Regions from separate parts of the Homo sapiens genome. Here region 2 is linked to region 1. The links come from fine-mapping of genetic effects on plasma protein levels. Region 1 holds a variant in brackets. A gene starts in the other region. All regions are shown on their reverse strands.

Region 1 (10,699 bases):
AGTGGAAGTAGGTTGCCCTCCAGTGTCTAAAGAGACTAGCCTTGCTTGAAAACCTTGACTATAGAGGATGCCACTATCTAGATGGGCTCCCTGATTTCAATGGGGATGACACGATCTCAGAATAGCAGAAACCAGGCAGCACATAACCAACAAAGACAAGGTGGGCGCACATGTACCTTAAAGGGCAGCAGGAAATCAGACTGCCTTGGCTTACGGAGCTGCTCTGAGAACAAAATAGATAGGCAGTTGAAATAGATTATTGCTTGATATTTATAACAGGTAAAAAGATCTAAGTCAGGTAGCCAAAACCTGACTTGAGTCACCACAGTGGATAGTCACAGTCTCTCAGTTCTCAGACCTAAGTCAATTCACAGACCCATAGTCCCTTGGTTGAAAGAGAATCTGTGTTCCCTTTAAGAAGGATCTTGCACCTTGGCTACAGTACACATGGCAAATTCTTTCAAGCTTTCCCCAAAACGACATGTGGCCATTTACTAGTGAAACTGCATTGGCGAAAAGGAAATACACAGATCATTTGAGGTTTACTAAACACTGGCTCTGAGTTGATGCTAATTCCTGGGGACAGAAATCACCACTGTTAGTCCACATACCAACTATGTGGCTACTTTCCCAGTGTAATTGGAATATGTATTAACAGCATAATTTTAATGGCAAAAACAGCAATTACTTTTGCACCAATCTAATAATTGTAACAGACATACTTAGCAACTGACAGGATCCCCACATTGGGATTTAGCCATAGAATGAGGGCTATTATTAGGGAGAGCTAAATGGAAGCTCCAGGAGCTCTTAGAGCTTCCACTTAGCTCACTAAACACAACACTGCATGGCTGGCAGGAATTGCAGGAATCAGTGCTATCATAAAAGTCTTAAAAGGAGTAGGAGTGGTGATACTTACTCTCATTTAATTCACCAGTACAGGATACATCTAGTAGAATAACTGTGGACTCATAAACTTAATCAGGAAGTGATTCCAATTGCTGCTGCTGTCTCAAATGTATTATTTTTACTGAAACAAATCAACATAGCACTTGGCACTTGGTATATAGCTACTGATGTGGCTAATGCTGTTTTCTCTATATCTGTTTGTAAAACCACCAGAAGCAGTTGGCTTTCTCATGTTAGGGCCAACAGGATACCTTCACAGTATTGTCTTGGGGGTATGTCAATTCACCTTAATATAGTCCACAGAGATATTGATTGTCTTGACATACCATCAAATATCACACTGGTCCACTACATTGACAACATTATGCTGATTGGACCTGATGAGCAGGAATTAGTAAGTATTTTAGGTGCTGTAATAATATATATTTGAACCAGAGAGAAGGAGATAATGATCTTGAGTATGAGATGACAACTCTAAAGTGGTCACTTCGGATGTGGGATATGTTCTAGGATGGTAAAGCTATATGAGGACAAAACCACTGAGTCACTGAGAGATGAATCCAAACAGATGGTGTGGGTTAGCAATGGTTAGGATTTGGGGGAAAAGGGGCAAAGTGATTGTTGCAGGGACTGGTCATACCAATCACGTGGCCATGGAAGGAAAGTGGTATAGGCTGAATGTTTCTCTTTAAAATACACGTGTTGAAGTCCCAACCCCCAGTACCTCAGAGTGTAATAGTATTTAGAGATAAGGTCTTTAAAGAGGAGATTAAGTTAAAAAGACGATTAAGTTAAAATGAAGCTGTTAGTAAGGCCCTAATCCAATCTGACTGGTGTCCTTATAAGAAGAGAGAGAGACCAGGGATACATGCACACAGAGAAAAGACCATGTGAGGACAGATTGGGATGGCAGCCATCTGCAAGCCAAGGAGAGAGGCCTCAGGAGAAACCAAACCCGCTGACACTTTGATCTTGGACTTCTAGCCTCCAGACTGAGAAAATAAATTTCTGTTGTCTAAGTTAGCCAGTCCTTAGTATTTTGTTATGCCATCCCTAGCAAACAAATACAGAAGGCAACCACCCAGCTGATAGAAAATACTAGGTAGGTGCAAAAGTATTTGCGGTTTTTGCAGGTAATGGCAACTGTGATTTTTTAAAGGTAATGGCAAAAAAACCGCAATTACTTTTGCACCAACCTAATATTTGCAAACCACATATTTGTTAAGGGACTAATATCCAAAATATATAATGAACCCACATAATTCAATAGTAAATAAATAAATAGCCCAATCTTAAAATGAACAAGTCACCTGGATAAACATTTTTTCAAAGAAGACATACAAATGGCCCACAGCTAATATTAAAAGGTGCTCTAGGTCGGGCACTGTGGCTTCTGCCTGTACTTCCAGCACTTTGAGAGGCTGAGGCGGGCAGATCACTGGTGAAATCCGTTCTCTATTAAAAATACAAAAATTAGCCATGTGTAGTGGGAGGTGCCTATAATCCCACCTACTGTGGAGGCTGAGGCAGGAGAATCGCTTGAAACCAGGAAGCAGAAGTTGCAGTGAGCAGAGGTTGCACCACTGCACTCCAGCTTGGGTGACAGAGCAAGACTCCATATAAAAAAAAAAAAAAAGGTTTTCTAATCATCAGGCAAATGTAAATGAAAGCCACAATGAGATATTACCTCATACCTGTTAGGATGGCTACTAGAAACATGTCAAATAATAATAAGAGTTGACCAAGAAATGGAGAAAAGGAACCCTTGTGCACTATTTATAGGATTATAGACTGGTAGGCCATTGTGGAAAACAGTATGAAGTTCTTAAAAACTTAAAAATAGAACTACCACATTATCCAGCAATCCCACTCCTGTGTATATATCCAAAGCAACTTCTCTTTTTCAGAAAATTAATTTGGATGATCTTGATCACTTATTTACTTTACTGAAATAAGATTTTACTATCACTTATGAAAAAGCTGTATGTTTTCCTATTGTTACTAACATATGAGTCTTTAGGTCTCCAAAAGCTGACAATAGCCATTCCAAGAGATGTGAGGTGTTATCTCATTAGATAGCTGCACTCCCATTTTCATTGCAGAATTATTCACAATAGCCAAGATATGGAATAAACCTAAGTGTCCATCAACAGACAAATGAATAAAGAAAATGTGGTATATATAAACAATGGAATACTATTCAGCTTTTAAAAAGGAAGGAAATCCTATCATGTACAACAACTTAGATGAACCTGAGGAACATTATGTTAAGTGACATAAGCCAGACTCAGGAAGACAAATACCTCATGATCTCACTTATACTGGTATGTGGAATCTAAAGAAGTCAAATTCATAGAAATAGAAAGTTGTATGGTGGTTGCCAGAGGCTGGGAAGTGGAGGAAATGGGGGGATTTTGGTCTAAGGGTATAAACCTTCAATTATTAGATGAATAAATTCTGGAGAGCTAACAAACAGCATGGTGACTATGGTTAATGATACTGTATTGTGTACTGAAAATTTGCTAAGAGGATAGATCTTAAGCGTTCTCATCATCCACAAAATAATGGTAATTATGTGAGGTGATGGATACGTTAATAAGCTTACTTGTGGTAATCACTTTATAATGGATACATGTATCAGAACTTCATGTTGTACACCATAAATATATACAATTTTTATTTACCAATAATACCTCAATAAAGCTGGAAAATAGATTGATAGATAATTGATAAATTGATGATAGAGATATACAGATAAATTAGATGATAAATACATAGGATGGATAAATAGATGAGATGACATAGATGACAGATAGAAAGATAGATAGATGATAGATAGATAGATAGATAGATAGATAGATAGATAGATAGATAGACAGACAGACAGACATTCTGGTTTCCCCAGGACCTTCAGAACAAACCTAGGTGCCTATCCTGGGATACAATCTTTTCATTTGGGAAAGATATGAGAAATTTTATCCTCCCTTTGGATCAGAGCAATTATCTCTGTCATTAGGGAAACAAATTGCTACAGATTTAATCCTTATGCTATGAGAAAATTTTCTAGCAAAAGTGAAAGCAAACATTCTCTATAGTGTACATGTTTCTGGGGCTCAGGAGGCTAGAGCTTTTTGTAGGAACACTGAAAATAGAGGGAAGGGAAGGTACATGAGGGCAGAACCCATATCATAAAGGTTCAAATTTGATTGCTTCTCCAGTACATAAAGCTTTTGTGACTTTGGGAAAGTTACATAATATCTCTAAGCCTCCATTTTCCAACATATTATATTGGGGTAGTAACAGTGATCTTTCAGCCTTGCTGTATGATTGCCACAGGTAGTGACATATTGGGAGAGCATTCACCAGATACTTCCATTTACTCTGGGAAAGGGAAAGATGGGTGCAATTGAGAGGTGAGTAGGGGAGAGAACATTGGAAACAGCTGCTATGGGACATGGAGAAGGAAGTCCATGTGGATAATTGGAGAGCATTGATTTCTCATGGAGCAAGTTCACCATTTTCTCCCTTGTCATCGATCTATGGCTTGAGAGCTCAATGAAAGTGTACTGTGAGCATAATCCAGGAAGAACCCCTTCTACCAGGATGCAAGAACAACGGCCACCCAAGGAATGCTCCAGGTTGGGAGCATATCATAGATATCTGTCATTTTTCCTACCCACTGATATACATTTTTGCAGTGAAGATTAAGTTAAAGTGAGCACTCAATGTAATTTTGAATAGGAAAGGTCTCGAAGGAGTGCTTGGGGTGAGGTTTCTGGAAGGCATGAGGTCTAGCCCCATGCTTCTGGTGATAAGTCTGTATGTGCACAAGAGCCTCAGCTTATATTTGCTAACAATAGGAAAATCTATCTTTTCTGTCAACTGATACTCTAAGTCTGTCTGAGCTCCTCAAAGGCCTAAATAGATCATATCTAAGGGGGACAAATTGGAAAGGAGTAGGACAAAGTTCTAAAGCCTAAAAACTTGAGAAAATTTTATAATTGTGGTTGCATAAAACTATAAATGAATGCGGGTTTAATCCTTTTCTCCACTCAACCTATTGTGAGAATCAGTCTGTCAAAGCCCTGAGCATCCTTACACATTCTTTCTGGGTATGCTAAGAATGCAAGGCCCTGACCATTATTTACTTGTGTCCTCTCAGGGTTGTGTTTGCAGGGAGCAGCCTTGAGCAACAGAGTAATGTCTTCTCCCAAACAATGAGCAGACTGACTTACCACACACTGTAAAGCAGTAAATTCCTCAAGCTCAATATTCCTTTGCTGTGACAAATCCACTGTGTATGTTGCATCCACCTGGACCCTTTCCCTCAGACCCTGTGGGATCTGGGGGACATGAGAAACTAGCACCGACATCAGGCTCAACATCTTCCTGTCTCTTTAACATCTTCCTTTGTCTCTAATCAGGGTGTCTTGTGTTTTCCACTGACATCCACGAAACAGTAGTGACCCCTCGACCTTTTACAGATCTTGAAATTACCCACCTACCTCAGAGACTCTTCATATTGTTGGCATAGCCTTTACCTCCCTGTGCCTTTCTTCCCATGAAAGGAAGCTGCAAGAGAGGATGAGTCAAGTAGCATAATACACTGCTGAGAGAGACATAAGAAGGTAAGGGAAGGAGAGCTGGAGAAGGACTTTATTCTTTATAACCCTTCTCACTATTTGAAATTATGTATTGACTTATTTTATGTCTATCCTCCCAATAGAATGCAAGCTGCTACAAGTCAGAGACCTTGTGATTCAACATTGTATCTTAGTGAGTAAAATAGTGTCTAGCAATATTGAGGCCTAATAAATATTTGTTGAATGAGTGAATACTAATCTTGGTCCTGAGCTACCAGTTGATGTGGATTGGTGGTGCCCATTATGAGTTGCCCTGGCTCGTAATAGATGTCTGTTTGCTTTTGAGCTGCATTTAAAGCTATTCCTTTTGTCTTTGTGAGTCAGCACTAAATCTTTATATTCCTATAAAGTGAGCGTTTCTTTAATAAAAAACGCTTTAAAGATAATTTCTCCCCCAAATTATTTTACTAATCATCTCGATCACGAAAGGAAGTCCAATATAGGGATAGAAAGAAATGAACACCATATAATGCATCTATGCTCAGTGCTTTATTTATGTTGCCTCATTTAATTATCATAACTCTGCAAGACTATTATATTAACATCTATTTTACATATAAAGAAACTTAGATACAGAGAAGTTAAATAACTTGCTTTAGAATA[G/A]TTAGCTACTAAATGGTATAGCTTCGTTTTTCTGGTTTCAAAACTCCTCTTTTGATGCAGCATTCTATAGAATTATGATACTTTATACCTCGTATTACAACGAATAGATTTTTGAAAATAACATTTAGGAAGTGTATTGCTCAGATTAAGTGTAAAAATTAGTAATCATTCTAGGTATTTTAAGCAAGAAGTTATTTAATAGAGGATGCTTACAAAAATCCATGTCAGGATTGAAGAAATGGGCTGTAGACCAAGCTTCCAAAAGTGATTCCCCGTATAATACCAAGTGACCTATCAGTGAAGCTAGTACCTCTGAAGACTACTGGAACACTGAGTTCAAGAACATAACCCTATGACAGAAGATGGAGTCAAAAACCTACTGCTGTCAACGGCCTCTGCTGCATATTGTCTTCCAGGAGGCTGAATAATGGACCATGGAACACTGCTGCAGAAAAATGTTTCTATGACCTTAATTCTAAGAGAAATGCCACCAAAAGTGGTCAGGAGGATGCCTTAACTTCTTTTCTCTTAAGTTTTGCATGAGTGTATCGAATTGTAGACCTAATTCATATCATAGCTCTACGTGCAAAGAAGTCTAGGAAATGTTTTAATTTTCCAGCCTCTGAAGTACAAAAGCCACCATAAGAAGAGAGGAGAATGGACAGTGAGTGAGCCAGCCTGCAGTACTTACCATAGGCAGTATTTGTAGAAATACAAATACATCTACAGAGAGAATGGAATAAAATGTTTAAAACTGTCTCTTTCCAGAAAAACCTATATTATCTAATATATGATTACTTATTTGAACTCTGAACTCTTGAAATTACAATCTTTATGGCTATGATTTATCCTGGGGAAAATATCCTCTATGTACAGTATAATTAGGGCTAATAATATGTCTAAATGTGCACTTATCAGAGATGAGAAAATTATTTGTGATGTAGGATCATCACTTTCATTTTTCTACAAGCCTTTGTTTGCTGTCACTACAATTGGCCTAATTTGGGGGAAGAGGAGGTCTATTTCCAGCCAGACTAGGCCTTTCTATGGATTCTCTTTGACTCTGATTTTCATATGCCACACAATACTCAAATAGGAAAGGCTTAACAACTCTGTACTCTAAAGCTTCAAAGACACTTAGAACATCCAAACATTTTACATGGAGAAAGGTAAAAAGATTTGCCCGAGGTCTCAAGGAGACTAGACTAGAAGCCCAGTTCTCTGGTTCCACGTCTAAAGCTTTTTCATCACAAAACCAAGCCTTAGATTGCATGCTATCTAAATACAGAATGATGTGTGTGTGTGTGCATGTGTGTGTGTGTGACTCCACTTATATCAAGTTCAATAACAGGGAATAAGCTGTATCTTTAGAGAAGCATACTTACATGTAAAGCATAAAGGAAAGCAACAAAGCACTAAGCATCAATGTCTAGTTCGCGGTGGAAGAAAGGAGTTGTGACTGGGAAAGGGCACATGGGAACTTCAAGGGTGAGGGCAAGCAGGGCTCACTGATGCATGCCTATAGTCCCAGCTGCATGGGAGGCTGAGGCAGGAGAATCACTGGAGCCCAAAAATTTGAGTCCAGCTTGAGAAACAGAGCAAGACCCCATCTTTAAATAGAAATTTTTAAAAAAATTCTAAAGGGGGTGATGGAAATATCCCAGGAAATTCAGTTTTGTAGGACTTAAGTTTTTTTTCCTAAGTTTTGAAACCCAATGTAATGTATTTGACATTTTTGCCTTTACTAATACTTAGTTTTAGTACCTATTATATGACAGAGCCAGGCTAAATGCTGGATTACTTCCTTTAACTCTAACAAGAACACTCTAATAAAAGCACTATCACTATCCTCATTTTGTAGATGAGAAGACTAACGCCCAGCTTTTTACTAACTTGCCCAAATCCACACAGTTCAATAGCAGAGCTGAAATTTAATCCATCTGATTCCACCCCTCTGCTCGGCTAGCCACAAGAAATTTAGTAAGTGAGAAAATTATAGACACCTCTTTTTATTAGTATTTTATAGTCATAAAAGTTATAGTTATGAAAACCATAGTAATAATACAAAAAATAGGATGTAAAATTACACACATATACACACACATAATTATGATTACATCGATGTTAAAAATATATGTGCCTAGGTATAAAAGACCACAAAACACTGATAAGTTAGGATGATGAAATATGGGTGCTTTTTCCCAATCTTCTCTGTTTTCCAAATTTGTTATGAAGTGGTTGCATTAAATTTACAATGGAAAATATGTTCTAAAATAAACTTCCCATTTATTTGAAACATAAAATTTCATTTCTGTTCTTTTCTTTCCTACAGCTTTGTATAATCTTTAGAAAACTCTTCTGCTCAATGAGTGACTTCATTACTAAATTGATGGCACCGGATCATTCTAGCTATGCAAATTACAAACCCACAGCCAGCTGAGGAAAAGGCAGATAAAAGATTACATTAAAAATTAAAGCAATGTGTGGAGATATGGAGATAATGTGCTTGCAATTAGTTCTACATATTTAATATTTATGCAATTACAAAGCCAGTTATGATAAATACAGCATTAAATCTTGAGTCCTATTCCTTTTGCCCTCTGACATTTTTGACCTTGAACTGAGACTGCCCAATAATACATTAAAAAATGACTGTGGGAGAAGCATTTCCTTTCGCCTATGAATGAATGATAAATGCTTATTTCTTGGAAGGTGATCTCATTTCTCCCTAGCTTTTGTTTATTTTCAATGCCTTGCTTTTTTTTTGGTTTTTGTTTTTGTTTTTTACTCTGGCATATTCTGATCACCCTTGAAAGCACTGGGTTTTCAGTCTTCCACAGTTTGGTTGTGTTGTTTTCTGGTGCTGCTGCTGTGATGTGTTTTCTGTCAGAGGAAATTTACAGGCACATTAGCCTACTTGACAGGCACAATGAGCCACAAGGCTCTCCTAAGGAGAAACTTCCACATGCTGTGGCGAGATTTTCTGTCTTTCCATCTCATCCTCCCTCTTTAACCTTAATATAATATACCCCCATGATTCCGATATAAACCCCAACCACTTTCCCTTACGGGTATTGCTTTGAATCCTGGTTTTAATTCTCTGATTCCAAAGAAGATCATTATACTGCTTCTACAATAATTAATTCCTATTTCCATAACAATCTGACTGCAGCAGTTTGTAGATAAAGCCAATGTCTTCGCTTACAGCCCTATAGATACCAAGTAAGGAATGGATGGGGAACATTTTTTTTTTCTTCCTGTGATAAGTCACTGACACAAAGGGAGGAAAATAGTATCCAAGAAGTATGCAAAGAAAAAGCAATAGAATTAATTTTTTGGAGGATATTAAGAGACAAAATTATAAAACAATTTACTTTTCTTAGTGTTTCACAGATCAGCAAGAATTAATAAAATGTATTAAAAATTCAGAAACATGGGCAGGGCACAGTGGCTCACACCTATAATCCCAGACTTTGAGAGGCTGAAATGGGCAAATTACTTGAGCTCAGGAGTTCAAGACCAGCCTGGGCAACATGGTGAGACCTCGTCTCTACAAAAAATACAAAAATTTGCTGGGTATGGTGGCACATAGCTGTAGTCCCAGCAACTCAGGAGGCTGATAGTGGGAGGATCACTTGATCCCAGGAGGTCGAGGCTACAGTGAGCCATGATTGCACCACTGCACTCCATCCTGGACAACAGATTGAGACCCTGGCTAAAAAAAAAAAAAAAAAAAAAATTCAGAAACACAAAATGAGACAACTGAAGAGGTAAACTGTTTTCTTGGCAGATTCCTGATAAATTAGAATATTCCCCCAAGGTCATTAAAGAACAAAAGGCCTGTGCATTTTTCATTTCATATATATTATTCTGCCCTTTGGGAAGTAAATTTGCTAAAACAAAGCCTTTCTGGTACATTCATACCCTGACTTGATGCTAAAGATATTTCTTCAATTTAAAATCTTCTGCCTTTTAAATAATTTTGAGGGGTGATTTTTGTTTTGGTAGCATTCCTTTTGTCCTCCTTATGTGTGAACCATCAGCGTGTAAGTATGTAACCTAGAGAAGTTATTTAGAATAGACCAAAATCACATGTAAGTTTCTTGCTTGATTCTCTGCCAAGAAGCCAGAGGTATTTTCCAAGCCAATCCATAATATTGGTCGGAGCTACTCCATTTGTTGAATGAATAAACAAATGAATGAAGTTTGCATTATCAGGAACCCAGGAGTGGGTGGTTTTTCAGTGGACTCATTCTTTAGAAAATTAACTAAGAACATTCTTAATTTGGTCCCCGTGCCCTTTTCTCTTTCTTGGGCCATGCTCTCCAGATGGTTTCACGGAAGTCAACTGCAGCTGTGTTCTCATCCATGCCTTCTGTCCCTTCTCCCCTTCAGAGTTCAAACAAGACTCTTGTTTAGCTCTGGCAGCTTGGTGGGTCCTCAGAGAGACTGACTCATTTCTCATGCTCCCCTGAGGTCTCTGAGTGAGAGAGAAGACCACAGATTCGCTTACGTAGAGTGATTCTTCTTTAGTCCAGTTTTCT
Region 2 (10,699 bases), not on the chromosome of region 1:
GCACTGCAGGCCGACCGGAGGCTTCTAGCTCGCGCCGGGTGCGTGGGCCCTCCCTGGCCGCCTGTGCCACCCCGCTGCGCGAGGCGCGGAGCCCGACCACGCCCGCGCGGACGGTCCCGGGGTGAGGAATCTCCAGTGGGGATTGAGGGTAGAGGGCGGCCGCCAGCGAGCTGCCCTCCGCGGATGGCGCCCAGCCTCCCCACGCTGGTGCCCCTCGCAAGGAGAGGTGGCCGGGAAAGGCAACGGACTGAGGAAAGCCGGCTCACTGGCCGCGTCGCCACCGCGTCCCTGAGTGCTCAGAACTTACCGAGCGAGCGCGCCGCCCAGATCTTTTCCCGGAGGCGCCCGCAGCATCTGCGACTCGGGGAGGCAAAGGAGCCGGCACCGCCTCGGACTGGCGCAGCCCAGGAGCGAGAGCACCGCGGGGAGCGCGGGCGGCGCCCCCAGGGCAGGCAGATCCCCACCGAGCAGCTAGCCAACGGGCAACGCTTCTTGCAGGAAGGAGGGAGGGAGGCGAGAGGGAGGAGGGAAGTAAAGCGGGAGGGAGGAGAGGGGAAGAAGGGAGGGAGGAGGGAGGAGGGAGGGAGGAGGGAGGAGGGAGTGAGGAGGGAGGAGGGAGGGAGGAGGGAGGGAGGGATCGCGTCCCCCCTCTCCCTCACTTATCAATCACCCCACAGATCAAATATCCGGGCTGTGCACCCAGGACGGGGATGTAAGAGCCCACAAAGGAGCCGCTGCTCCATTTCTCTGACAAGCGCTGCGGAGCACTGCTCACGCCTCTCGGTCCCTCTTGCCTGGAACTCTGCCCAGCCCTTGCGGCTTCCACCCTGGGCTGCAGCTCGGGCTCGGTCAAGTGAAATAAGAATGGCACACGGTCGGTACCATGTCCAAGGGGAGACTAAGACTACTGGGTGGAAGTTAACGACAAGTGAAAGAGCAGTCAGCCATCCGAGCTGGACACCCTCCGGGACAGCTGCCTCCCCTAACTAGTAAGCGCCCAGTCTTTGGGAGTTCGCAGGCAGATATTTAAGAACCTCCTACGAGGATCGTAAACAAGGACTTTCAACATAAGATAGAGCTGAACTTGAGTTGTGCAAGTGTGTTAACAAAGCAAGCCCTTAGCAGCGTTCCAGTGCCCATTTTGATTCCCTTTATTCTTCACGACGACGTTGCCTGGATCTTCTAGAGCGTGATTTTTGCCATCCTCCCTTCCCTTTTCTCCTTTCTTCTTCCTCTTATTAGTAGTCCAGGTGGTTGTGATTCTATTAAAGGAAGGCGCTCTGTGAAAAGAGTCAGTGTAGTTCAAGAGGGAGGTGCGGTTTTTGCCAAGAGCATTGCGTTTCCCCTCAAGACTTGCTTTCTCTAGGGCCTCTCCTCTACTCTTCCAGAGTATTCGAGATAAAGTTGCAGTTTGATAAATTTATGCCAGGAGTAGGGAGTTCATTTGATGACACTAAGTCATTTTCCCCTCCATCCTGTAGGAGAACGTCATTAATTCAAGTCGTTGCCACCCCCTATCCTTTTCATGCCCGCTAGAGTCTGCAAAACCCCAAATCCTTCTTACTGTCGAAAAGCGTGATGGTGGAGAGCAGACGGGGAGGCGAGGAGAGAGGTGCAAAATTAGACGCAAAATTACCTCTCCAGCTAGTGGATCTGCATTGGAATTTGTCTGTTTCCATATTTCCCATGCCTTTCAACTCGTTCTCACAGCACTGACAACCACCTTTTTCTTGTCCTTCCCGTGGGAATCTTTTGTGCTTCTCCTGTCCTCTCTTCTTGGCTTTCTTTCATAATGGTTTTCTAAGGAGATTATGCTGGGCTTTTTAAAAAGAAAACTACTGGCAATCTTATATTATGAAGATGTACAGAGTTTGCTTTAATAATAGTCGGAAGAATTATAATCGTATCTTCGGAGTTGTAAGGGTCATTACTGTTCCTTTTATTTCATTCTTGAGAAAGCCTTTTTGAAATCTTCCTACCATTCAGATAAGCAACTTCGGAATAACATAGTTCTCACATAAGCACGTGGGCAGTGTATGTACGGTTATATATCCAGAAGCATTGCTCTTCTTTTTACAATATCTGTATTAGTGTAAACATCCAATGTGCTGTTTGCTACAGACTAAAAGCAGTGCACTGAGCACATCATATTATTAACTAAATGAGGTCAGTTAATACTGTTACTTCTGTCTTTACCGTATTTCTGACTGTGTCATCTTTTCATGTCGCTTTTAGTAGATGTTATAAACAACTGCAAAACACAGAGCTAAGAGGCCATTCCAATACAGAAATAATGAGACAGTCATGCTGAAAAACTCAGACAGTTTACTAAGAAGGGTGATGTGTCTGTAGCCAAAGGGAACATACAAAATAAGCAAAAACTTCTATACAGAGTAGAGAAGGAACATGGCATTAATGATGAAAAGTGATACTTTATTTAGATCCAGTAGTAACATGTAATAGATGGCATGCATCAATTTTAATTAGCCTTGTAAGCAAGTCTAACCTGTTCACCAGCCTTCGAAAAGCATTTAGCAGCCTGCCTTTCCACATGGGACCACACTGATAGTAAGACAAAATTAAAAAGAGCAGACTTTTCTTTTTGTCAGCATAAAATTTTCAAGTAGGTGGATAGCTGTGCTTTGAATGCACAGACACGAAAATTGATGAGCAATATAAAACTTTCTGAGAGGGTTTTGCATAGACAGTTATAATGGAGGAGAGTTTGAAGTCTGTGAAAAATTTAAATATGCCAATTTATTTGAAAGCTGCTTTATGCTGAATTTTCTAAAAGCTTCTGTGTTAGAGGAAAATTTCCAAATAGAATTGAATACTAGAGACACCATATTAATGTACTTCTGTTCATTAATAAAAATCACATTATTCTTCTTTATACTAGCACTGTAAATGTATCTTTATATCCATGTGCTGTTTTCTTTTTGAAAAACTTTTATTTTAGGTTCAGGTGTACGTGTGCAAGTTTGTTATATAGGTAAATTGCATGTGGTGGGGGTTTGGTTTACTGTAAGCTACTTTCTATTGTGAAGTTCGTGTTACTAAACAACATAGAGATCCCGATTGGAAAACTAGTGGAAAAACAGAGAAATAAAACTAAATCTTGCCTGGGTTTTTATAATTTCATTCTAAGGTTAGAAGAAAACCAGAAATTTCACCTGCGATGAGTGAGATAAAAAGCGCATATGTTTCCAGGATGATGTAAAGGATGTCCTATTACTGTGTAGTACGTAATTTACCTGAGAATGTTGCTTTTTCAACTTCTTCACACCTATCCAGAACTAGAAAGCTTTAAAACATATAAAAGAAGACAAAATGTGCTGCATTTTCAGTGAACATAGTTTCTTTCCAACCAAAGGTTTCAAAGAAGAGTGCCACAGAACAAATTCCTAAATAAAGAAACGCAACAAAGCGGACATGCCCTTAATATTAGTAATTATAGTTTACAGGATATTGTAGACTTTTGTTCCTGATGTTATTGAAAAGGTGGATATTTTTCAATTCAATTCAATTATTTGGATTATTTGGCAGGCATTTTGGCCTGATTGAAATAGTGCTGGGCCAAGACCCAGGGCAGTTTTTCTTTTAATCAAATACATATCCAAGCCCTTGGAGCCCAATGACCTGGGTTCAAATTCCACCCGTGCTACTTTCTCACAATGGGACAAAAACAGCATTACACCAATTTCAGTTCCCCATGTGTAAAACTGGCACCTGCTATGTGGAGTCAGTAAGGATGGGATGTATACAGAACTCTTGAAAATTGAACGGTGGTACATGTATGTGCAAATAAATCTTAAACTAAAAAAATTTTTAACTCACTTCTTAAAATAAATAAGTTATACAAAATATTTTATATCTGTTTTCTATGTTTCTCATGACAATCCTCAACAGGCCAGTATGATTAGCCAGACTTTACAAAAGAGGAAAGTGAGACTCAGAAAATTTAAGTAACTTACCCTTACTCCCATTCTTGGTGAAATGGTTGATTTTAGTCAGAAACCAACATCTTAATTTAAGTTGGATAACAGAATTAGCATTAGAAAAAATATTTATGATTCTAGTTGGAGCCATGTAATGTCAAACATTTAAAATAACTTCAAAAAAATTCCATCTTTCATTTTACAGATGTTTTCAAATAGTTACATATATGTATACATCAGGGCTCAAACTCAACACTGTTGATATATTTGGTCAAATGATTATTTGTTGTGGGGGCTGCCCTATGCAATGTAGAAGGATTAGCAGCGTCACTGGCTTTTGTGTGTGTGTGTAATGTGCATATGTATACTATATATACATACGTGTAATTATATAAATGTAATAAGTAATATAACAATATATAATGAAATATTATTCTATTGTAGTCGATTTTTTAAATGCTTGGCTGTGGCCCACTAAACTGAACTCAGGAGTGACTGTAGATTGCCTCTTACAGTTTGAATAACACTGCCACGCTGGAATGGGCAGGAAAGGAAGGAAAATGGGATAGAAAGGAGAAAAGAGGCAGTAGATCAAGAGGGGAAGTACAGAAATAGAAGGAAAAGACAACTGCATGTCTTACAAAGTTATAGAAAGACTTATGGTGCCCCCATCAATTACACCAAGTGCCACTTATTAATGATACCTGTTCTCTAAGGGCTCTGGCTCTCCCTCTTTTTTGACTGAGTCCAGTGATTTATCAGTAAGAACCACATTTAAGCTTACTAGACTTGGGAGCACATATACATGGCAAAAGCCACAAATTTAACAGATAAGGCTCAGGACAGCATTAGTAGGTATTTCATCTATCCTGACACATTCTATCTTATGAATTTTGCTGCAGCTGGAAGTCATATTTTGGTTTGGAGTTACAACCTAATGTGTTCAGGAGGAAGCCAAATTTATTAGGTTTGACATTGCACTTTATTGGAATGGTATAATGCAGTTGAGCCTCTGTAATAAGTTCTGTTGATTTTATTTATGTATTTATGTTTGGCTAGTATAAATATATGGTAAAGTATGTGCTGTGGTAGAGAGTTTAATGCTGACTCTGCTGGAAAATTCAAAAATGTCTGCATAGAAGATGCCCAGTTCTAAAGAGTTACGGTCAGAGGAGCAGCTACTCAGGATTTGCACTAAGTAGTTCTGATTTTTAAAAATGTCATCATTTGTGAAGAGGACTAGTCTATTAATATGAACAAAATGGCAAGGATGACATACCCCAGATCTACCTGAAGTTGTGATTTGCACAAAATGAAGCAGAGTTTCAAAATTGTAGGTTTAGAAATGAGGCAAGTAAGATCTAGAATGTAAATAAAATCATTTCCAGTAATAACTGGATGCCGCATTCAACCATCATTGCAAATCAATGTGAGGAGAATGGATGTTTTTTACCTTGAATCCTGATGACTTATTACTCAGATGTGATATCAATTATTTTTGTCCCCTTCTATTTTTCATCTCCCAGGCAGTTTCTTAAGTGACAGTACAATGACATTTGGAATACAACCCTCTTCACCTGATTATGGTAGGTCAGGTAACCTCTTAGTCAGATGTAACGGCCCCAGGACATATATTAAGTAACTTTTGCATCTGCCTTTGGTCTCACTATATTCCTAAGCAAATTGAAAAGAAAATGAGCCTCAAGTTTTATGAGTTTTAGATTACCTAAATACACCTGAAGTTCTCTTAGAAGAATAGCCTGAAGTGTCTCTGAGGTGGAAGAATTATATGCAGCATCTTGAAAGCATCACTTTGCGGGAATCTCAGGAAACCATGCCAATATTGAAAGCATAATTATCACCAAATTTTTCTTCCACCGTGGGCATCACCACAGCAACACAAGTACAGGAGTGGGGTCAGTGTCACTTTATTAATATTTTGAAAGGAGGCAAAAGCAAGCTTATTTTTTTTTGCTACACATCGTTGCTTCAGAATAATAAATTCAGTATGCTGATCCTTTAGCTTTTCATATATAGGTCTAGTTGACCGAGGTTAGAGAATGGCACAATTAGAACTGGAAAATTTATTTGCCTTAATTTGAATATATTGAACTGTTTAATGTATTTTTCAATAAAAATACTAATATGTAGGGAGCGCTGTACATGACTGCTAAATGATGAACGCTGGTTATTATTTGCAGCATGGAAAGACAACTGTCAAATTAATGAACTGATGTTCTGGTTACAATTTTAAAAAATATAATCACTCAATTTCAGGTAACTCCTATACTTGAATATAAATAAACATTGTATAACAATTTTGACTAAACCTGGATCCCTGCTGTAAAGTTCCAGTTGCTTGGAATTCAAATGTCATATGATTTACTGAAGGTTCTGAATGGATCTGCTTTGATTTATATTGCAACATTGGGGTGTATTGAATTCCAATGAAATTGTTGATTTGTTATCTTTGCTATGGCCATTAGCCAAATTCATTCTTGAGCTGCAGTGGTGATGTAGATCACAGCTTACCTGGCTTCATCAAGTTGTGTTTCTCTATGGTTTTTAAGTATGTGGTTTGGCTAAAGTAGAGTTCAAGGACACAGATGGACCATAATACCTATATTAAATTAAACATCCAACTTCTTGATCAATTTTCAGTGTTAATATGCAAAGCACCTGTATTAGTCTGTTCTCACACTGCTAATAAAAACATACCCAAGACTGGGAAATTTATTTAAAAAAAAAAAAAAAAGAGAGGTTTAATGGACTCACAGTTCCACATGGCTGGGAGGCCTCACAATTATGGCAGAAGGTGAAAGCCATGTCTTACATGGCGGCAGACAAGAGAGAATGAGAACCAAGTGAAAGGGGAAACCCCTTATAAAATTAACAGATCTCATCATGAGACTTACTACCACGAGAACAGTATGGGGGAAACCACCCCATGATTCTATTATCTCTCACCAGGTCCCTCCCACAAAACGTGGGAATTATGGGAACTACAATTCAAGATGAGATTTGGATGGGGACACAGCCAAACCATATCAGTACCTTAAATAATTTTAAAAACCCACCTTAATAAATTACTGTAACTGATAATTCTATGTAAAAAGTCTCAAAATAATAGGGGAACAGGGCAAGTGATCTACAATTAAACTGCAGGCTTACAAAGCTTCTTTCATGCGTGTTCAATTCTTATCTTTCATTGAAATACCAAAGTAATGTAATGTTTAAGAATTTTCTACTTGCAAAATGCTGATGATTATTTTGGGTATAAAAGCACTTGATAGCCTAAGAGTTTGTGTTTTATGTATGTGCCTATCTATCAATACCTTCCTTTCCCTGTTTCCTCCCTTCCTTCCTTCTTTTCTTTCTTTTATAATTGATTTGGGAATTCCTTCATTCACAGTTAGATGTTTTATCAACAAAAAGTATAAACACTACAGGGAGCAGTTTATATTATGATAAAATGATTACTTGAAATGGGTTATCACTACATATAAGTTTCTACGATAAAGATATCATCATGTTTTTTTTTTTGTTCGACAGTCTCGCTCTGATGCCAGGCTGGAGTGCAGTGGTGCAATCTCAGCTCACTGCAACCTCTGCCTCCCGGGTTCAAGCAAATCTCCTGCCTCAGCCTCCCGAGTAGTTGGGACTACAGGCACGCACGCCACCATGCCCAGCTAATTTTTGTATTTTTAGGAGAGACGGGGTTTCACCATGTTGGCCAGGATGGTCTCAATCTCTTGACCTCATGACCTGCCTTGGCCTCCCAAAGTGCTGGGATTACAGGTGTGAGCCACCGTGCCCAGCCATAATTGTTATTTTTACTCAAATTTCCATAGGCTATTAGAATGGTAGGATGGGAAGGGGATCTAGCTTCAGCGTACCTTATTTTGTAGTTTGTGTTCATCTCCAACATCCACATCCCCTGGGCCCTTGTTAAACAGGAAGATTTCTGAGCTCCTCTAAAATCTTACCGAATAGAACTTTCTGAAGGTGAAGTCTGGGAATGGTACTTTTATAGGACTCTCAAGGGAATCTGATGTAAATGGCAAGATCCATTCTAGTCCAACATCTTCATTTTATAGATGGGGAAAATGAGGCTCAGAGAGGTGAAGTGATTTTATTCAGTCATACAGGCAGAGTCAAAAGAAAAATTCACATCTCCCAACTCTCATGTAAATGCCTCTGCTTGGTTGTTTAATGTTTTGATGCTTTAATTTTAGAATTATATTTTTTCATTGATGTTCAGCGTTAAAATTTACCATTGCACAATACACTCTGCTTATGAACCATGTTATAATAGGCCTGCAAAAAGTGCATGCTTGGTCAGCCACATTAAGCAGTACCATTTTATTTTCAAATTCTTTTAACTAAAATTTTATTGCTTATGTTGTGCTTTGGGATGAACTATATAAAATGGAATAAAATGCTTGGTAAATAGTTATTGAATTTAAAAAAATGAACACAAATCTCAGTATTGAGTTTAGAAAGATTTACTTCATTATTTTCACATACATGCTAAAATATCAAACTTAAGGAAATCTGAAGTAGCTTACTTTTCATGCTATCATTTACTAGATCTACTGAATAATTTTGAGGATATTGCAGGGAGACCCGGGTCCATAAATAGTTTTTTTTTCTCTTTCATTTCGCATCTTCTTCGTTTCAAAATTTTGAGTAGAGTTATATAAGTCCTTCAGAGTAGGCCTCTGATGCATGGGGGCTGAGAACATTATCATGAAGCTCACTTGACCTATAAGTGTCAACTTCAAGAAAATTTCTGCTACTAACTTTTGAAGATAAAATAGAACATCTAATGAACATTCAGAAGAGGAAGATATATATCCATTTCATGTAAGCTGACCTGGATTTCAGCTGCAGGATCTCTTCTTGACGCATTTATAACTCATTTTAATTGCTAATAGGTACTGTGTGTACACACCCAAGGCAGAATGGGACTAAGCCTCTCAGATTTACAAAGGTGAATTAACTTAAAATTAAACAATAGGTTTTTGTGAAAAGACATTTCATTTGACATAATCTAATGCTGAACCAAATAGATGTGATTGACAAGCCCCAATTATCCAAGAAAGTTGAAAGGACTAGTGACATTTTTATGCCCCATCTACATTACTTTAATTATTTAAAAGGGGAATTTGGTGATTTCATTTGCATAAAGTGCAGATAGTAGAAAGTATGTGGGCTTTGGAGTCAAACAGATCTGGATTTGAATTCCAGCTCAACTATCTAACCAAGAATGTGAGTAGGAGTGTGGGCATGTTTTAAATTCCCTGAGTCTCACTTTCCTCTTTTGTAAAGTCTGGATAATTATACTGACCTAGTGAGTATTGTTGTGAGAAACACAGAAAAAAGATATAAAATGTTTCATACAGTGCCTAGCATTTAGTAGGTGAAAAGGAAAGCATATTATCCTCCAAGTGTTCTTAGCTTGATCCATAGAGTAGGGAATACCGTCCTTCTGGAAATAATAGGAAGAGTGGGTCTCTCTCTCTCTTTCTCTCACTTTCTCTTCTTCTGCCTCCTCCTCCTCCTCCTCCTCCTCCTCCTCCTCCTCCTCCTCCTCCTCCTCCTCCTCCTCCTCCTCCTCCTCCTCCTCCTCCCTGCCTCCCTTCTCCTTCTCCTCCTCCTGACTCCAAGAAAGAAGTGATCTCCCTGGTGAGTTTGAGAGAAGAATCTGAACAAGATTAGCTCAGTGATGTTTGTGTCCTTTTTTCTTTCCAGGGCCACCTACTCTCAGATTATGCCCAGCACTGCCTGGGACTGGATGGCTAAATTTAATTCAGAAGTCTTTGCCGGGAAGTCCAATTATGGCCATAGACCAAACCAAGTTATTGAATTTATTGTTAACAGTAATGAACCTGGTATTTTGAGCTCCATCTGTCTGATACTTGCATTTACTTCTTAATTAGTTATGAAACCACAGTGTGTTGAAAAGCGTTAACATGATCACCACCAATTGCCCACCAGTAGGCAGTCAATAAATTATAGCTATTATCACAGACGTTTTTAACTGTACCCTCATGCTTTCTGTAGTAATTTGATCTATTCAGTATACAAAATGTCTGTCACTTAATGAACTCCTTATGGGGTATTGCTGTATACTTTAATTCCTTATTAATTAATTAGGAGAAAAATGGCCATTAGTATCTCCTATCTGGGTGAGTAGCATAACTGCCTCACAGTTTGTCAAAAGTGAAATTCACTTCAAATTGAGAAGAAATGTTAGGTTTGATTCCCCCTCAAGTTCAATTCTGCTTAGTCATACATTGTATGTATTCTTTCTAAGCCCAGACAATGTCTAATATATCAAAAGTAACTGGATTTAGAGGTATTACGAAGTAATAGTCTTCATCATAGAAAAACCAATTCTCTTATTGTAGCTTCACCTGGCTTGTGAGAAAATGTGCGTGTGTGTGTGTGTGTGTGTGTGTGAATTTAATTGTCATTTATACTTTGTGACATGAATACAGCAAGTGGCAGAACACAAACGTGTGAGTCCAAGGAAAAATATTAACAGTAGGATCCTTACTCCTTGGTAGGTCAAAAAGTTCTTTATCTTTTTGTTTTAATTAAGATAATGAAGGAATGAAAAAAAAAGAGAAGAGAAATATAGACAATAACATACAAGATCCCTTGTTCCTACCATGTCAATTGACTGTGTTAAAAAGACCAGAAGCAAATGTGAACAATATTATCAATATAAAAATAAACAACATAAAGATGAAGTT

Which allele goes with the higher level. Positions count from the first base shown, and alleles are read on the strand shown. Strength reflects both the effect of a copy and how common the allele is.
For the plasma level of the protein whose gene starts at base 505 in region 2, allele A in region 1 goes with a higher level than allele G (weak association).

The links. PIP is the chance, under the fine-mapping model, that this variant and not a neighbour inherited with it causes the effect. Protein levels are from antibody-based Olink assays in UK Biobank. Linkage for the fine-mapping came from a reference panel and not from the study's own genotypes, which makes the PIPs less certain.
Region 2: SLITRK2 starts here. The variant in region 1 is fine-mapped to the plasma level of the SLITRK2 protein (UK Biobank, PIP 0.92).

The regions. Positions count from the first base shown.
Region 1 is chr5:109,676,992-109,687,690 of GRCh38, reverse strand. No RefSeq gene overlaps it. Among named protein-coding and RNA genes, the nearest start is that of MAN2A1, 7.6 kb to the left of the region's middle. The variant G/A (reference allele first, on the strand shown) is at 6,156.
Region 2 is chrX:145,807,635-145,818,333 of GRCh38, reverse strand. It overlaps SLITRK2 (SLIT and NTRK like family member 2), which reads right to left and starts at 505. Exons shown (of 5, transcript NM_032539.5): 1 at 308-505.